Regions from separate parts of the Homo sapiens genome. Here all the other regions are linked to region 3. The links come from fine-mapping of genetic effects on plasma protein levels. A gene starts in region 3. Each other region holds a variant in brackets. All regions are shown on one strand. Distances are from middle to middle.

Region 1 (5,000 bases), 49 kb after region 3:
CTGGTAGAATTCCACCTGGCCAGGTCTGTTCTGAAATGTAACTTTCTCTTTGCCGCTGAAATGATTCTTTGTAAAACCAAACCTCAAACACGTTTAGTTTTCAAATTGCTTTTTTTTCCCCAAAGTGCGTTTTTGTTGAATCCCAGTGTGTTATTTTTTTTCCTCCCTCTCCAATGTTAAGAAGAAACCTACACTCCAAAACCTGAAACGGACGAGATGAATGAGGTGGAAACGGCTCCCATTCCTGAAGAAAACCATGTTTGGCTCCAACCGAGGGTGATGAGACCCACCAAGCCCAAGAAAACCTCTGCGGTCAACTACATGAGTGAGTCTAGGCCGTCCTCCGCCCCTCCTGCCCTCCCAGCCACCTCCAAAGGGGACGGGGTGGGTGGAGGAGGGGAGCTAGTGGATTTAGGTCTGCAAATCCACAGGCAGTGGCAAACAGGGTGCGGCGAAGCTCATGGAGGCACAACCATAAGACGTTTTTCAAAAACGATATTTTTAAGTCATTTCAAAAGCGAGCATTATAGGACTTGTGCTTGGGTGGCATTTTCCCCACACCCAGGCAGGTATTTTAAGGTTAGACCTTCCCTTGTCCTTTCAAAAGGGACCTGGGCTGAAGTTGGGTTCCTCTGGGAAGCGCTGGCCCTGCAGAGGGCAGGCAGCGTCCAGCCTGGCTCTGGAAGGTTCCACTCCTTTCTCACCAGGTCCTGGGTCTGGACTCAGTTGGCGCATCCATGAAGTAGGGGATAGAGATGCCACATCAAGGTTGCCCGGAGGATGAGCTGCAGCAACACGGGTCACCCAGTGCCAGCTGAGGTCTCCCTGTACATTGAGATCATTGCAGAGTTGCCTACAACTCTTTTTTGAGATGGAGTTTCGCTCTTGTCACCCAGGTTGGAGTCCAGTGGCATGATCTCGGCTCACTGCAACCTTTGCCTTCCGGGTTCAAGCAATTCTCCTGCCTCAGCCCCCTGAGTAGCTGGGACTACAGGTGCCCACCACTATGCCCAGCTAATTTTTGTATTTTTAGTAGAGAAAGGGAGATGTTTCCCCCTGGGACTTCCAGGAATCCCCAAAATATTGACTCTTCCCCTGCTCACCTTTGGCCTTTTGGCTCCCTGGGCACCTCAGCTCCCCAAGCTTTTGTTCTGTCTGCCTTCACCGCCCCAGGGTGGAGTTCAGCTCCCCTTCAGCTCCCCCCAGCCACTGCTGCGGGAACTCATTTGCAGCCGCCGTTTCTGCAGGCCGGGGGCTGTGGAGGGGCGTTTTTGCTCAGGCGGGGCTGGAGGGCTGGGCTGGATGCCCTTGGCTCTCCCCGTTTGCCCCGCAAGCCTCAAAGGCCCTAAAACTGGACCCCTCTTTGAGGAACAGCCTCACACCCGCCTTCTCAGAGCCCCTCTCTTCTTTTCATAACTACCATCTCCCCTGCCCCCACCAGTCTTTCTGTCCTCTTCAAACCTCTTTCCCTGTGATGCCGAAGCATTCTGTAGCTTGCTTTGACCAGGAAACCTGCGGAGGCCCTTGTCTGTCCAGGAGTTCAAAACGGTGCCATTGTTTCTTTTAATAACATACAACGTTTATGTCCCTTTTCAAACTATAACACGACTCCGAGACTCTGATATGTTCCCATAAAATAAACAAAGCAAAAAGCTTTGCAAAAGGCATCTTGGCGATGGGGGAGATGACTCGGGTGAGCCTGGCTGGGTCTCCGGCCCCACAGGCTCGGAGCAGCATCCTCCCTACCCTCTCAGGAGTCCTGCCCTGCAGAGCCCTGTGGGACCACAGGCACATCGTGTGTGCCAGGCACCCTGCCAAGGCCAGAGTTCACTTTCTCTCTCAAGGTTCACAAAAGCCCTTGGAGGTGGGTACTGTCACTGTCCGCATTGTCCATATGCGGAAATTGAACCTCAGAGAGGGGAAGCAAATTGTTCAAGGTCACACTGCTACTGTAAAGCGGTGGGCCTGGGGTCTGAGCCCCCAGCGGAAGCCTGCAACCATCAGGCATTGCCCTTGCTCTTAGTATAGCACGGATTGGATTGCAGAATGTTCCAGAATGTCCCTCAGCATGGGGAAGGGTCTTCTCACCCTCCTGGTTTCGTGCCGTGACATGTATTCCCGCATTTCTCTCCTAGCCCAAGTCGTCAGATGTGACACCAAG[A/T]TGAAGGACAGGTGCAAAGGGTCCACGTGTAACAGGTGAGCCTGTGCTGGGCTGTCCTGCCACTGTAGCCTCTGAGTCTGTGCTGGGCTGTCCTACCACTGTGGCCTCTGGGCCTATGCTGGGCTGTCCTGCTGTTGCATATTTAGCAAGCTGCTCTCAGCAGGCAGAACAGGGGTTAGGGCTGGGCAGTGTCTGGGCATGTGTTCGCCTCGGCCGTTGGCAGATCCTATGGGAATGCTGCAGGATCTGAGCAGGCTGCTCCCAGTGGGCCCCACCAGACAGATGGGCCACCGGTATATTCCCCCCATGGTAGATGAATAAATCCATCTAGTTGTTGCAGTCATTCAGATGATGAACGCTGTCTGCCAAAAAGAACGCATTTGGTTTTGGCAGTGTGACTGCTGGGCTGTTCTTTGTGGTAGTAAACAGCCAACAGGTGCAGCCGCCGCACGCACACCCTCAGAGTCAAATGGGAAAACCATGTCATTGGGAGAGGGGACCTTGCTCGTCTTCCTACGAATTCTGGCATCAGTTTGCCGAAAGCTGAATCGAGTTATTTAAAGCACATGTTAAAAAGGGAAGGTTGAATCTTCGGTTTTATATCGCAAGGGTTTGGAATTCAGTTTGCCAGGAGAACACTTCACTTAGACGTTGGCAGGACTGTGATGAGATGGACTTGGAGCAGCCGGGATGAGGCGGCTCAGTGGGCTCACATGTGGTACTGTCGTTTGTTGGTGAGATGAGCCTCATGTGTCAACAGTCAGCAGTGGAATAACAGTGCCTAAAACCTCGCGCTCAGTGTTAGGGTAGCATTTGCATGTCTCTGTGCTGGGCGAATTGGGAAAAAGCAGGCAGCGCCTGGCAGGGGCCTCCGCCGTGTGCACTGCCCCGTCTGGGCTGCTGAGAAGCCGGAGTTGTCCTTTTGTGGCAACGCATCTTTCTGAATGCTAAGCACATTGCGATAGCATCACCCCTGAGTAGTACTCAGTGGAAAAAGGTGAGCACGTATTGGAGAACATTCCTTGTCAGACAACATCGAGGCAGTTCCAGAGTTGGGGTGGGTGGGGCACTCCCCATGCAGGGAGAAGGCAAGAATCTGTCCACACAAAGGCTCTTAAAGGCCTCCAGTCAAGAAAAGTTACTCAGCCCCAGTGTGCCACTGTGGGAGCATCCTCATTCTCTCTGTAGAAGCCGGCCCACAGTCTGGCACACCTGTTTTCTGTTCATGGTGCTTTTACAAAAATAGTAGTCAGTGGGTTTTTTTTCTGACTTGAAAAGGCATCTATGCTCATTAATAATTATTCAGGAAAGCAATAACAACAACAAAAAAGTAGAAAGAAAAAAATGTGTTCCAAAATCTCATCAATACCAGCAGCAATTTGATGTATTTCCTTCCAGTCTTTTTTTCTGTGTACAGATGAGGCTAATGCTGCCCATGTATTTTGTTTTTTTTTTTTCTTTGAGTTGGAGTCTTGCTCTGTCACCCAGGCTGAAGTGCAGCAGCATGATCTCGGCTCACTGCCACCTCTGCTTCCCGGGTTTAAGTGATTCTCCCACCTCAGCCTCCCGCGTAGCTGGAACTACAGGCACACGCCACCATGCCCGGCTCATATTTTGTATTTTTGGTAGAGATGGGGTTTCACCAGGCCAGGCTGGTCTCAAACTCCTGACCTCAAGTGATCTGCCCGCCTTGGCCTCCCAAAGTGTTGGGATTACAGGCGTGAGCCACTGCGCCTAGGCTGCTTATGTATTTTCACTTAGTATTTTCCAAATATTCTTCACGCACTTCATGCTTAGTGACTGCCTGATACTCTGACACACGACTGTACATGAATGTGTTTAGCCATTGCTTTGCCACCTGCTGGCTTATTTCCAGCTTTTCACCATTATAAACAGTTGCGGCCAGGTACGGTGGCTCAAGCCTGTAATCCCAGCACTTTGGGAGGCCGAGGCGGGTGGATCACTTAAGGCCAAGAGTTTGAGACCAGCCTGGGCAACTGGCGAAACCCTGTCTCTACTAGAAATACAAAAATTAGCTGGACATGGTGGCATATGCCTATAGTCCCAGCTACTCGGGAGGCTGAGGCACAAGAATCGCTTGAACCTGGGAGGTGGAGGCTGCAATGAGCCGAGGTGTACTGGTGCACTCTGGCCTGGGTGACAGAATGAGACTCTGTCTCAAAAATTAAAAAATGATAAATAAATAGTTGGGATATGCTTGCAGGTCTGGCTTTCTTGACTTTTTGCTTGGAATATATATTTACAAGGGAAGCTGAAGAGCTAATGGATATGAATGTTTAAGTCTTTCTTAAAGATTTTCTTAAACATTAGAGTGATTTACACTTCCATGAACAGCAACACCATCATTGAGTTTTACCCTATTAAAAAATCCTTGCAGGCCAGGCATGGTGGCTTGTGCCTGTAACCTCAGCACCTTGGGAGGTCAAGGTGGGTGGATTGCTTGAGCCCAGGAGTTCGAAACCAGCCTGGGCAACATGGCAAAACCCCCAAAATTAGTTGGGTGTGGTTGTGCACACCTGTAGTCCCAGCTACTTGGGAGACTGAGGTGGGAGGATCACCTGAGCCCAGGAAGTTGAGGCTACAGTGAGCTGTGATTGCGCTGCTGCACTCCAGCCTGCGTGATGGAGTCAGACTCTTTCTTGGGGTTTTGTTTGTTTGTTTGTTGGTTTGTTGAGACTGAGTCTTGCTCTGTTGCCCAGGCTGGAGTGCAGTGGCACGATCTTTGCTCACTGTAACCTCTGCCTCCAGGGTTCAAGTGACTTTCCTGCCTCAGCCTCCCAAGTAGCTGGGACTACAGGTGCCTGCCACCACACGCGGC
Region 2 (8,901 bases), 17 kb before region 3:
TCTACTAAAAATACAAAAAATTAGCCAGGCGTGGTGGCGGGCGCCTGTAGTCACAGCTGCTTGGGAGGCTGAGGCAGGAGAATGGTGCGAACCCGGGAGGTGGAGCTTGCAGTGAGCCAAGATTGCACCACTGCACTCCAGCCTGGGCGACAGAGCAAGACTCCGTATCAAAAAAAAAAAAAAGCTGTATTATTTGGCATGTATACATTTAGGAATTTTCTATATCCTTGATGAGTTGGCCTTTTTGTAATTATGACAAACCCATCTTTATCCCTGGAAATATTCCTTTGTCTAATATTAATATCACCACTCCAGCTTTCATTTGGTGAGTATAAGCATGTTGCATGGTATACATTTTTCCATCTCTTTACTTTTAACCTATTTATGTCTTTGTAGTTAAAGTTGGTTTCTTGTAGACAGCATACCGTTGGGCCTTGCTTTTTCATACAATCTGACAACCTTACATTATGTTGGAATGTTTAGAACATTTACATTTAACATAAATCAATATAGTTGGGTTAAAACCTGCTATCATGCTATTTGATTTTCAATTTGTCTTATCTCTTCTTTGTTACTTTCTCCCCATTTTCTTGTCTTCTTTTAGATTAGTTGCATTGCCTGTCTGATTCCAATTTATCTATATTATTTGCTTGCAGATATGTAAAAAGTTGAAGTTTCATTAGGGATATACATAAAATAGATGATTTTTCTAAAATAATGAGGCCAATCATGAGATGACTCATTAAGGAAAAGATCAATTGAAAAATGCATGTTTGGAAAAAAATTGCATGTTTGGACTTACCTTCAGTTATCATTAGGAAACAGAATAAAACCTAGACCAGAAGTTAAGTATTTTTTTTTTCCTAAGCTCACAATTATAGTTTCTATGATTTGAATCATCAGAAGAGCAAACTTGATAATCCTGGAAATTTAGGAGACATGAGGTCATGGAAGGTCGTGGAAGGTCCTGAAGGTGAGTATTCTGTCAGGAACGGTGTGTTCGCCTTCCTTATGCTCCTGCTAAGCCCTCTCTCTAAAGTTGTGTATTCTGCTCGAAAACTTCCCTTGCCAGAGGATACTTTTCATGAATAAATGCTCTCCAGTTCTTGTCATTGCTAAGTACAGTTCTTGGGTTACTTTGCATGTCTCTCCAATATCAATTTGATGGAGTGTCTTCGAGGAACTGGCAACGTGCCAAACACTATATGCAGGGATTTGCCTACATTCAATCATTTAATCCTCCCAACAACACTGTGAGACTGACAAGATTCTTAGCTCCCCTCCATGGCTGATGAAGTGGCATCTCAGTGAACTGAAGGAAGTTGCTGGAATTCCAACCTGTGCTGTCCAATTACCAGGCCTATGATCTTGGCCCCTAAGCTATCTTTGGGAGGGCCTGCCAGTGCTTGGATTTCCTGTTTCTGTCTCTTTCCCTGCTGGCTGAAGTTAACAATCAGTATTTCACAGGGCCCTCTGAAATTTCCTTCCCCTTCAAATATCAGCCTTATGCTGGTACTGGGGATACCCAGGGAGTGAGACGTGGTCTCCAGCTTATAGATGCTCGAAGTAAAAGAGGAGATGGAACAATTGTCACAGTTACCTATTGCCACGGTGATGCTGAGTAACAAACCACCTGTAACTCTGTGGCTTTATTCTTGCTCTCTGTCTGCAAATCATCTGGGAAAATGGGGTGGGGTGGGGTCACCTGATCTATGCTGGGCTCAAGCTACAGGATGGATCCAATTCTACTGGACACTTTGTTCTGTGACCCGTGGATTGCCTGGGGCATTTTCTCCTTGTGGCCATGGCGGAAGCCCATCAATCAAAGCAAGTCACATGGCTAAGCTCAAAGTCAAGAGGTGGAAAGTACTCTTTGCCCACCACGAGGCCATGGTAGACCCCAAGGCCATTGGGCTGTAGAACAGACAGCAGAGTGGAGAACCAGAACCGATAATTCAATTCACCTCATTTATTTTAACAGGTGAGCAAAGCAATTTGCATGACAGCAAGATGTTGCTAAGGAAGACAAAAGATAGAAGCAACTGCCTACCTTGCCAACCACATGCCTTCACAGAGGAGGTGATGTCGGTGCTGGGTCTTGAAAGGTGGGGTTTCCCAGGTGGAGAGAGAGCATGTGCAAAGGTCCAGTGGCACAAAAGGCCCCTGTGGGCTCAGAGAGAAGGAAAAAGCTTAGTGCTACTGATGTGTAGAGGGGTGCATGTGCTTGCAGGTGGGTGGGGAGGGTATGGGGCAGGGAGCTGGGTGCAGTAGAGAGAGATGAACCCAGAAAGTTGCCAGTAATGAAGATAACTAAGGTCATTAATGGGCAGGGAAGTGTCTGGTCAGGCTTGGGTTTTCAGGTAATGATTCTGGCTGCAAAGTGGAGACCAGAGAAGAGGAACAATTAAAATAATTAACATGTGTAGGTTTTTCTTTAAAAAAAAAAAAAAAGAAAGAAACAGCCAGGCATTTTACATGCCTAATTTGAACCTCACAGCAACCGAGTGAAATAGGCATTATTGGCTGGGCGCGGTGGTTCACGCCTGTAATCCCAGCACTTTGGGAGGCCGAGGTGGGCAGATCACTAGGTCAGGAGATCGAGACCATCCTGGCTAACATGGTAAAACCCCGTCTCTACTAAAAAAATACAAAAAATTAGCCGGGCGTGGTGACGGGCGCCTGTAGTCCCAGCTACTTGGGAGGCTGAGGCAGGAGAATAGCATGAACCCGGGAGGTGGAGCTTGCAGTGAGCCGAGATCGAGCCACTGCACTCCAGCCTGGGCGACAGAGCGAGACTCCCTCTCAAAAAAAAAAGAAATAGGCATTATTAATTTTAATTTTAGCATAAAAAGAAATATATTTGCATTCATTTAAAAATCTTTCCTCATTGGCCAGGCTTGACCAGCTGGGAGCTCACTGTGCTCACCCTCAGGGAATGCTAACTTTTTTCTTTTTTTTTGAGACAGAGTCTCATTCTGTCACCCAGGCTGGAGTGCAGTGGTGCGATCTCAGCTCACTGCAACCTCTGCCTTCGGGGCTCAAGCAATTCTTCTGCCTCAGCCTCCCCAGTAGCTGGGATTACAGGCATGCGCCACCACGCCTGGCTAATTTTTGTATTTTTAGTAGAGACGGAGTTTCACCATGTTGGCCAGGCTGGTCTCGAACTCCTGACCTCAGATGATCTGCCTGCCTCGGACTCCCAAAGTGCTGGGATTATAGGTGTGAGCCACCGCACCCAGCCAGAACTTTTAGTGTTGTTGTTTGCTCCTGAAGCACGGAGGTTGATGTTCTCAGCCCCATTCCCCAGATGAGGAAAGCTGAGCCCTGGAGAGCCTGAGGAACATGCCCAGCGTCTCAAGTGAGGAAATGGTGGGCTAGGATCCAAACCCAGGAGGTGGGCAGCTGGCCACTGGGCCACAGCGCCTCCCCATAGGGTGAGTCCAGAGCCCCCAACCAAAATGGCGGATGGGCTGCAGGAGAAAGGAGGGACTGATGTGGCTTCTACCTGCGTCAAGTGGACCAGGTGTGGGACGAGTTTCAGGGGAGCAGGAAGGGAAGAGAGGAGTCAAGAATCCTCGACTGGCTGGGCGTGGTGGCTCGTGCCTGTAATTCCAGCACTTTGGGAGGCCGAGGTGGGTGGTTCACGAGGTCAGGAGTTCGAGACCAGCCTGACCAACATGGTGAAACCCCATCTCTACTAAAAATACAAAAATGAGCCGGGCGTGGTGGCACTTGCCTGTAGTCCCAGCTACTCAGGAGGCTGGGGCAGGAGAATCGCTTGAATCTGGGAGGCGGAAGTTGCAGTGAGCTGAGATCACGCCACTGCACTCCAGCCTGGGTAACAGGGCGAGACCCTATCTCAAAAAAAAAAAAAAAAAAAAGGAGTCCTCGACCATGCCGTATGCTTCCAGTTACAGAATATTCTTGAACAGGCAAGCAAGTCTACAGCAAAGCAACAGAAAGCAGATCCATGGTTGCTGGGGGAGGTGGGACGCAGATGGGCGTGATGGGAACATTCTGTATCATGGTGGTAGTTGGGCGGGTATAGACATCTGTTCCTCATCCAGCTGTCCACTTAAATGGGTACACGTGCTTGTGTATAAACCCCACCCCCTGTAAGGTTGATGTTAAAAGTGCTTCTGAGGCCTCCTATTGGTGACATTGCCCAGGTCGGTGGACGTCAGGGGATCCTATTTCTTAGAACACAGGGATGTCTTTCCGTCATTTGAATTTCTGGCTAGCCGACCTTTTTCCTCCTCAGCTGGAGCCCCTACCTGCCTCGGGGGACTAGGAAAGCTTAGCAGAACCTCAGCAGGAAAGCAACTTGTTTAGCTTTTAGAGTTCTCAGTGAGACCAGAGCCCTGGGAAGGAATGAAGAGGGGAACGGGGTTGCCCACATCCTTTGCACCCCTTTTGCATCAAGAGTCAGGCCCGTGGTCCTTGGCAAACTCACGCAGGAACCGAAAACCAAATACCGCACGTTCTCACTGATAAGTGGGAGTTAAACGATGAGAAGACATGGACGCATAGAAGGGAACACCACCCACTGGGGCCTGTCGGAGGGTGGAGGGTGGGAGCGGGGAGGGGATCAGGAAGAAGAACTCATGGATACTGGGCTTAATACCTGAGTGACGAAATAGTCTGTACAACAAACCCTCGTGACACACGTTTACCTAAGTAACAAACCTGCACATCCTGCACATGTACCCTGGAAATTAAAAGTTTTTTTTAAAAAAACGATTGTTTTACAAAGTCAGTGAAAAAAGGGCCAGGCGCGGTGGCTCACGCCTGTAATCCCAGCACTTTGGGAGGCCGAAGCAGGCGGATCATGAGGTCAGTAGATCGAGACCATCCTGGCTAACACGGTGAAACCCTGTCTCTACTAAAAATACAAAAAAATTAGCCGGGCATGGTGGCGGGCGCCTGTAGTCCCAGCTACTCCGGAGGCTGAGGCAGGAGAATGGCGTGGACCCAGGAGGCGGAGCTTGCAGTGAGCCAAGATTGCACCACTGCACTCCAGCCTGGGTGACAGAGCGAGACTCCGTCTCAAAACAAAAACAAAAAGAAAAACAAAAACAAAAAAACAACAAAGTCAGTGAGAAATTTAAAAGAAAAAAAAAGGTCAGGCCTATTGAACTTCAAACTTATTATCAGCCAGAGGGGATGGAAAACCCAGTGCCTCATGGAAGGAACACCCCAAACATAAGAAGGTGGAAAATCCTCCCTCCCAGCTCCAGCAAGGTGAGCGGACAGGTGAAAAAGAGCTTCTGCCCCTGGTCGGGACCCTGGAGTCAAGGGAGGAGGCAGATTAAGGAGGAGGCTGAGAGCGAACGTGTTACGAGGCAGCTCCCTCCAGTGCAAGGTGGAGGACAGCCCTCGTGCACAGTGGAGCAGCCCCAGCCTGGGTGACTCCCCAAGCCCTGTAGGCCGATGTGGCCCGGTATGTCCAAGCTTGCTGGAGTGGGTTAACTGGTGGCCCCCAGAATGATATATCCAAGCCCTGATGCCCAGAACCCGTGAATGTGACCTTATTTGGAAAAAGAATCTGGCTGGGCACGGTGGTTCATGCCTGTAATCCCAGCACTTTGAGAGGCCGACACAGGTGAATCATCTGAGGTCAGGAGTTCGAGATCAGCCTGGCCAACATGGTGAAACCCCACCTCTACTAAAAATACAAAAGTTAGCCGGACTTGGTGGTGCACATTTGTAATCCCAGCTACTCGGGAGGCTGAGGCACGAGAATCGCTTGAACCCAGGAGGCGGAGGTTGCAGTGACCCGAGATCACACCACCGCACTCCAACCTGGGTGATGGAGCGAGACCACATCTAAAATAAATAAATAAATAAATAAATAGGCTGGCTGCGATGGCTCACGCCTGTAATCCCAGCCCTTTGGGAGGCCGAAGTGAGTGGACCACAAGGTCAAGAGATTGAGATCATCCTGGCCAACATGGTGAAACCCCGCCTCTACTAAAAATACAAAAATTAGCTGGGCGTGGTGGCGCACGCCC[G/A]TAGTCCCAGCTATTCGGGAGGCTGAGGCAGGAGAATCACTTGAACCTGGGAGGCGGAGGTTGCAGTGAGCCGAGATCAGGCCACCGCACTCCAGCCTGGGCAACAGAGTGAGACTCTGTCTCAAAAAAAAAAAAAAAAAAAGAAAGAAAAAGTATCTTTGCTGTAATCAATAGAAGGTCTTGAGATGAGGCCATCCTGGATGACCATGTGTGCCCTAAGTGCAACCATGAATGTCCGTATAAGAAGAGAAGAAGGCTACGCGAGGACAGAGGCAGCGATGGGAGTGATGCGGCCACAAGCCAAGGAACACCTGGGGCCCCTGGAAGCTGGAAGAGGCAGGAAGGATCTTCCCTCTCTCCACTCTGCAGACGCTTTGATTTCAGACCGCTGGCCTCCGGAACCGGGAGAGAACACATCTCTATTGCTAGCCACCCAGTTTGCAGCAGTTTATTAGGACATCCCCGGGAAATTAATCACGGCTCCTGTCATGTAAAAAGATCGGTGGGTGGGCTCCGTCTTTGCCTCTCTGCAAAACCGTGAAGTCCCTAAACTTCCTTCCCACTCATCTAGGGGGAGAGGAGAGGAAGGAGGGAAAGAGCGAGGGCCCTGAGTGGCTCTGAGTGCACATGGGTGGGCTAGTTGCTGCAGAGACCACTGCAAATTAACAGAGATGATATAGAGAGACTGAGGCTGAGCATGGTGGCTCACACCTGTAAGCAGCACTTTGGGAGGCAGAGGCAGGCGGATCACTTGAGGTCAGGAGTTTGAAACCAGCCTGGCCAACACGGTGAAACCCCATCTCTACTAAAAATACAAAAATTAGCCAGGCATGGTGGTACAAGCCTGTAATCCCAGTACTTCGGGAGTCTGAGGCAGGCAGATCGCTTGACATCAGGGGTTTGAAACCAGTCTGGCCAACATGATAAAACCCCGTCTCTACTAAAAATACAAAAATTAGCCGGGCATGGTGGCACATGCCTGTAATCCCAAATACTGGGGAGGCTGAGGCAGGAGAATCACTTGAGCCCCGAAGGCGGAGGTTGCAGTGAGCTGAGATTGCACCACTGCACTCCAGTCTGGGTGACAGAGTGAGGCTCCGACTCAGAAAAAAAAAAAAAGAAACCAAGAGATGTCCTGTTGTCAAGGTTAAGTACTACCCCACCCCTCAACTGCCCTGTTAGGGAAAATAAGGCAGTTGCATTTTCAGACACGCAAGTGGGACCCGCCGAGATTAAAAATGCAAGAAGCAGCGGTTCACAGGATGCCGAGGATGACTGGACTTCCTGTCCACCCCCTGGGCCTGGCCAGAGCTTCTGCAGGCACTTCAGGCTCCCCTGATGGTGGCGGTGATGCCGTGGGTGCTCGGGGACAGTGGGAATGCAGTGACACCACTCGGGCTAGAGAACCCCCCGGAGGCTCTTGCATTGGTCGTCCTGGGCCATGCACAGCCTGGAACTGGCCGCTATCCAATTTTGCATCTGGGAAGTGTTCATCGATTGCTAGAAAAATAATCAGGTCGAACGCAGGCCATTTCCGGTAAAGAGGCTCTAGGGAAGCACCTTCAGGCCAGATGACTCAGGACTGTGCGGAGTGTGTGTGGTCTGGGAGCCGGCTGCCTGCCGGGCCCGGGTGCTCTGCAGGGAAACAGTTGGCTGCCTGAGGGCTCATTCATGGCTGTTTCCCCTGGAAGGGCGGCGCAGGAGCCCGGTTCTGCAGCCCTGCCGACGCCGTGTCACAGACACAGCTCTTCATGGATGCATCTGGTTTCCCATGGCTGCGGTAACAAGTGACCACAAGGTTGGCGGCTGGAAACAGCTTAAGTATCCCATCTTACGGTTCTGGAGGTCAGAAGTCTGAGATCGGCATCACTGGGCTAAAGTCAAGGTGTGGGCGGGGCTGGTTGCTCCTGGAACCTCCAGGGGAGAATCGTCTCCTTGACTTTTCCAGCTTCTAGAGGCTGCCTGTACTCCTGGGCTCATGGCCCCTTCGTCCATCCTCAGAGTGCATCACTCCAACCTCGGCTTCCATCATCACAGCACCTTCTCTTCTGACGCTGACCCTCTGGCCTCCCTCTTACAAGGGAGGCTTGTGATTCCGTGGGGGCCACAGGAGAATTCAGGCCGCTCTTCCCATGTCACCACCCTTAGCAGAATCACGTCTGCAGAGGCCCCGTTACAATGAATGCTGGGTCCAATCGCGTTTCCCAAAAATCCATGTCCACCTGGGACCTCAGAATGGGACCTTATATGGAACTAGGGTCTCTGCAGATGTAATCACATTAAGATGATGTCACACTCAACTAGGATGGGCCCTAATCTAGTGCCTGATGTCTTCATAAGAAGAGGAAAGTTTGGACACAGATGCACCGGGAAGGTGGCCATGTGAAGAGGAAGTCGGAGATTGGAATGGCCACAGACGGGACATCAGGCATTGCCGGCCACCAGAAGCTGAGACATGTGCAGATGGATCCTCCCTAGGCCCTTCGGGAAGAGCATGGCCCCTTCGACACCTTGATCTTGGACTCCTGGCCTCCAGGACTGTGGGAAAATGCGTTTGCGTTGTTTGAAGCCCCCTGTTTCTGGTACTTAGTTACAGCCGCCCTAGGAGCAAATGCATCGTGTAAGGGCACATTTGCAAGCTCCAGGAGTCAGGAACAGGCCTAGACGGGGTGCCATTATTCAGCCCTCCACAGACCCTTAGCAGGGCGGAGAAATGGGCCAAGCCCCCTGTCAAGGAAGAGCTGGAGAGTGGAGAGGGCACCTGGAAGGGTGTCAGAGTGGCGTGGCTCTGCAGAACGGGGCCTGTCACAGGGCAGGTGCTCAAGCCCATGTGGATAAGGTGCGTAAGTTGAGACTGTCACATGTGAAGGTGGCCTCTGCTGCCAGGCGG
Region 3 (5,000 bases):
GCCTGGAGGGTTGTTGGGGGTGGCAGGATTTGGCAGTATAATGCTTTGGGGTCAGGTACTCAGAGGCATCTGTTTTGTTGTTGTTTGTTTGTTTGGTTGGTTGGTTTTGTTTTGAAATAGGGTCTTGCTCTGTCACCCAGGCTGGGATGCAGTGGCTCGATTTCAGCTCACTGCAACCTCCACCTCCCAGGCTCAGGCAATCCTCCCACCTCAGCCTCCTGAGTGGCTGGAACCACAGGCATATGCCACCATGCTGGCTACTTTTTGTAGCAACTGGATTTCATCATGTTGCAGGCTGGTCCTGAACTCAAGCCACCTGCCTGGGCCTCCCAAAGTGCTGGGATTACAGGCCTGAGCCATCGTGCCAGGCCTCCAAAGGCATCTGCTAACACAGATCTCTTCTCCCCTTGGATTTGTCTTTTGTCAATCCAAGGACTGTTGTTCTGGAACAGTCTTATTCACTACTGAGCCCTCCAGTGCTTGAAACAGAGCCCAGCACATAGTAGGTGCTTAATTATTGGATGACTGCATGCCAGTTGAGTGCCTCTGAAGAATGATGCTTCAAAGACTGAGAAAAGTAAAACAAAAAGAGGAAAAAAAGATAACAGAAAACATCTGCATTATTATTATCTTTTTGAGATGGAGTTTTGTTCTTGTCTCCTAGGCTAGAGTGCAATGGCGCCATCTCAGCTCACTGCAACCTCTGCCTCTCAGGTTCGAGCGATTCTCCTGCCTCAGCCTCCCAAGTAGCTGGGACTACAGGCATGCACCACCATGCCCGGCTAATTTTTGTATTTTTAGTAGAGACAGTGTCACCATGTTGGCCGGGATGGTTTCGAACTCCTGATCTCAGGTGATCCGCCCGCCTCAAACTCCCACAGTGCTGGGATTACAGGTGTGAGCCACCGCGCCCGGCCAGTCTGCATTATTCTGTATCTGCATTTGAGCCGCACCAAAATCTTAGGCAAGCCTTCCCTGTTTGAGTCCACGTCACGCAGGCAGCCTTCCATAGTCCTTGTTCCACCCATTCCCCATCCTTGTTTCTCCCACGTGCCCTAGCTCGTGGGGGCCCCAGACTCTGAGATCCCGGAGGTGTCTTGTTTGTGCCTGCTGTATAGCACAGGGCCCGGCACAGAGCGACTCGATGGGTATTTGGGGAATGAGTTAATGCTGGAGGAGCTAATTCCGGTGTCTTGGTGCGGAGATGAGCAGTGCGGACAGGCCCCCTCCTGCCCTTGGGCCCCAGCACCTTACCGCGCAGTGCCTGCATACCCGTCCACATTTTGTGACTGAGGCGGGAGCACGGGGCAGTCCCTTAGCTCTTAAGGAACGTGGATTTACCTGTTTCAAAGGTGATTTCGTCTGGCTCTAAATTGATTTCCGTATGTACCTGCACAGGTTAAAAATGCTAAATGCCTCCGGGCAAAAGAGATATGAACATGCTGCACTGCTCCTAGCTACGGGACTTGGGGCACGCTCTTCTCCAAGCCTCAGCTACTGGATCTGTGAAATGAGGTGATTTCCACCTCCCTGGATTCCTGGGAACGCGTCCTAGGGTCGTTGAAGGTAAAGTGCGGAGCCTGGATCCCCGCGCTAGCGGCCCCATCCGGAAACAAGTCTCCCTTTCTTCGTCTGCAAATTGGGAAGAGGGGGCCTAAGTTTTCTGAGCACGTGTAGAGGGTGGGAGTCACCTCAGTAACTGTGTACTCTGCACCGCGCCACAGTTCACAGCGCCCAGCCCTTGCGGATTTCATTTGCTAAAATCCTGGGAGGTCGCCTCCTTATTCCTATTTTCCAGTTGAGCTGCAGAGAGCTGGGGTTTGGTAAATTTGCAAGCCCCTTGTGGGAAGCGCTTGGCACCGCGCCAGGCGCATAGTAAGCGCTCAATGAAAACTATGCTTGTGTGGCCAGTGGCGAGGGAGCTGAGCGTCTCCTTGTCCCTAGCCGGCCCTGGAGGCCAGCGGCCCCGCCTTCCTCGCCCACCCGGCGCCCGCGCCTCAGCTGCCCCCCGCCTCCTTCAGCCCGCTGAGCCTGCGGGGCGGGGCCGGGGGCGGGGCCGGTGATGCTCGGTCCTACCAGCGCCGCCAGCGATCTGGGGGCGTGGCCTCCGGGCTCCGGGGAGCCTACAAGAGGCGGTACGCTGAGCCCCGGCACCCACTCGCATCCCAGGGCGTCTCCGGCTGCTCCTATTGAGCTGTCTGCTCGCTGTGCCCGCTGTGCCTGCTGTGCCCGCGCTGTCGCCGCTGCTACCGCGTCTGCTGGACGCGGGAGACGCCAGCGAGCTGGTGATTGGAGCCCTGCGGAGGTAAGTGTGATTTCCATGCTTCTCCCTTTTGCAAACTGTTACCCCCCCGAGAAGCTGGAATAACTAGGACAGATGCCACCTCGCAGGGCTGACTGTGTGCTGGCACCACACCGAGTGCTCTGCTTGCATAGCGGAACACAGCTTTGCGACATGCCCTTTTGCAGATGGAGAAACTGAGGCTCAGCGAGGACAACTCATTTGTCCAGGACCTCGCAGCCAGGACTCCAAGGACCCAGGATTCAACGCCGATCTGAGCGCAGAATCCTGCTCCTTAGAGGCTGTTTACTCTCTTGCCTTCCTCGTGCAGTTCACTAGCATTTGTTGCATTCCTGTGTTCGTAGTGGGTGTCAATAACTGGAAAGCTGATGGCATGGATATGGCAGGCATTAGAATGTGTCCTACTCATGTCTGGAGGACCAGGGTGATCTAGTGGCATGTGCATTCAGCTGCAGTTTAGAGGGCCACGCCCCTCTGTGATTTCATTTGCAAGGTAGCCTTCTTCCCACATTTCAGATGAAGATGCTGAGGGTCAGAGAGGTGAAGTAAGTTGTCCGGGCAGAGCCAGGGCTGGAACCCAGCTCTGTCTGTCTCCAGAGCTTCAAATGGATGTGTAGAGACTTGGGGCCATGTCAGGGTTCTGCAGTCTGGGGGAACACGTTTCTGGGTTTCTTTAGCCAGAGCGGGCACCTGCATAACTCCTGCGTGGGGAGAGTTACCCTGGAAGCGGAGGGCTCACTCTGGAGTGTGGGGGAGATCGGTCGTCCCACGTGGACAGAGCCAGGGCTAGTCCCTCATGTGCTGCAGACCCAGAGCCTCCCTTGCTAAGGCTGGGCTGGTGGACAAGCCAGGGAGGACTTCGCTGATGCCTGCTCATCGCAGTCCAACTTGAATTGGGCGTCTCTCAGCCAAAATGTGAGTTGCTGCCCTGGCTGAGAGAAGCATCCCGTGCAAATGCCTAGCTTGCCTTGCAACCGAGAGTGGGGTTGTGAGTTTCCCCTTTGGGCCTTTGGACCTCTTGCCCTGGTAGAATGGGGTGAGCCTGCTTTCCCCATCCAGGGTCTGATGTCTGACAGTGAGGAGAGCCTGCAGAACAGGACCGGGGCGTGGTCCTTTCCAGTAGACTGAGGCCATGAGTTGTGACTGTCGGCTGTCCCAGGGCTCCTTGGGTTGTATGCACCTGATTTTCTGCTTCTGCCCCTGATCTGGCTGTTCCCACTCAGGAGAAGGGGTGGGTGTGTGACTGTGTTGCCTGTGCGGCAGGCACGCGGTCTGTGCCACGCAGTTTACCTGTATTGTCATCGCTGCAACACCCCGGGGAGTAGGCCTCTTGATGCCCACTTCACAGCTGAGGAAACTGAGGCTCAGCAAGGTGAAGTGCTTGCCTAAGATCCCCCAGCTGGTATGGAATGCTGTCACCCCCAGGTGGGTCCTATCTGCACTCTTGACCCTGCTTTCTTTAAGACACTTCCCTGCCCACTGCCAACTCCACCCATGAACCTGACCTTCACACAGGTGATGTTTTGTCTTACAGGGGCTCCAGTTAAAACCACTGGACAATGTACCCAGGGAGGAGAAACCAAGAGGGTGATTTTGATTTTTTCAGAGTTTCTTAAGATGTGAGAGTAGGAATAGTAATAATGCCATTTGTAATAATACAAGCAGCTGACATTTACATGATGCTTAGTACAGACCAGACATGCCCAGGGTTTCCACGGATGAGCTCACTGCCTGCTCTATTAGCTGGGCACTTTTTACAAGGAGTTAGTTGAGGCTCAGAATTATTAAGGTGTGTGCCCAACATGACACAGCCAGGGCGGGGTAGAGCTGCCGTCCAGGCTGGGCCCTGCCCCAGATTCTGGGGGAAGGTGCCCATCTAATGACCAGCCACATGACTGTCCCAGCAGAGCTTGCTGCTAGTTGAGGCTTTCTGTGCCATGTGGGAGTTTTTTTAACGTTGGCAGGGATCTGGGTCCCTGGTCCCTGTTGGGGTGAGGCTGGGAGGGGATCAACTGACCCTGGGCTTGGGCTCAACATTGCTGACAGGTACTGAGAGCCCCGTCCCAGGACCCAAATCAGTGCTGGTTCTGAGTCCTGCCTCTGTCCTGGAGAGGAGAGTTGGTTTGACTGGGAAGGCCTGAGCTAGGGAAGAAGACTGCGAGGTCTCTTAAAACCTCTGCACTTCATCCCTCAAAAGACCACAAATTAAGTATGTGGCCCTTTGTAAGTTGCATTTGAAAGTTTTTGGAGGCAGGACCCTCTGACGTCTTTGGAGGTCAGAAAGTTTTTGGAGGCAGGGCACTGACCTCTTTGGCCTGTGGGAACTGGAACTTTTCTTTCCTCTGTCACCAGCGTCATTTGCTGTGTGTGGGAGGTGTCTGCATGTCTGCCTGCGCCAGACTCAGGAGGCTTTTTCTTTCTTTTTCTTTTTTCTTCTTTTGCAAACGCACTGGTTTTTGATCAGTCCCAGATGTGCAAACCCAGGATCACTCAAACGGGCTGACGGCTTGTCAGGAAAGGAAAATTCAATCTGGGCATATTTCACTTCGTCTTCAGTTCATTGAGTGGAACAGATGCTCAGACCTTCCAGGGACAGGGACCTAAAGCACGTTGTAAAGTCTTAAATAGAGCACGCTGAGTTCTGGGACAGGCAAGGGACAGGTAGATCTGGGTGGTGGTTAATAGGATGGGCCATGTT

Evidence for each region. PIP is the posterior inclusion probability: the model's chance that the variant is causal. Protein levels are from the aptamer-based SomaScan assay of Sun 2018.
Region 1: its variant is fine-mapped to the plasma level of the CRISPLD2 protein (Sun 2018, PIP 0.95). The variant lies in the coding sequence of CRISPLD2. If it changes the protein, the assay may bind it differently, which can mimic a change of level.
Region 2: its variant is fine-mapped to the plasma level of the CRISPLD2 protein (Sun 2018, PIP 0.95).

Annotation. Positions count from the first base shown.
Region 1 is chr16:84,866,716-84,871,715 of GRCh38, forward strand. It overlaps CRISPLD2 (cysteine rich secretory protein LCCL domain containing 2), which reads left to right. Exons shown (of 15, transcript NM_031476.4): 7 at 182-325; 8 at 2,136-2,196. Among named protein-coding and RNA genes, the nearest start is that of CRISPLD2, 49 kb to the left of the region's middle. The variant A/T (reference allele first, on the strand shown) is at 2,162.
Region 2 is chr16:84,799,144-84,808,044 of GRCh38, forward strand. LOC105371378 (a long non-coding RNA gene) reads left to right here. Exons shown (of 3, transcript XR_001752293.2): 3 at 869-1,119. Among named protein-coding and RNA genes, the nearest start is that of CRISPLD2, 16 kb to the right of the region's middle. RefSeq lists enhancers at 5,205-5,705, 6,873-7,451, 7,452-8,028 and a silencer at 7,413-7,612. The variant G/A (reference allele first, on the strand shown) is at 6,012.
Region 3 is chr16:84,817,829-84,822,828 of GRCh38, forward strand. CRISPLD2 (cysteine rich secretory protein LCCL domain containing 2) reads left to right here and starts at 2,157. Exons shown (of 15, transcript NM_031476.4): 1 at 2,157-2,305. RefSeq lists a silencer at 1,930-2,119.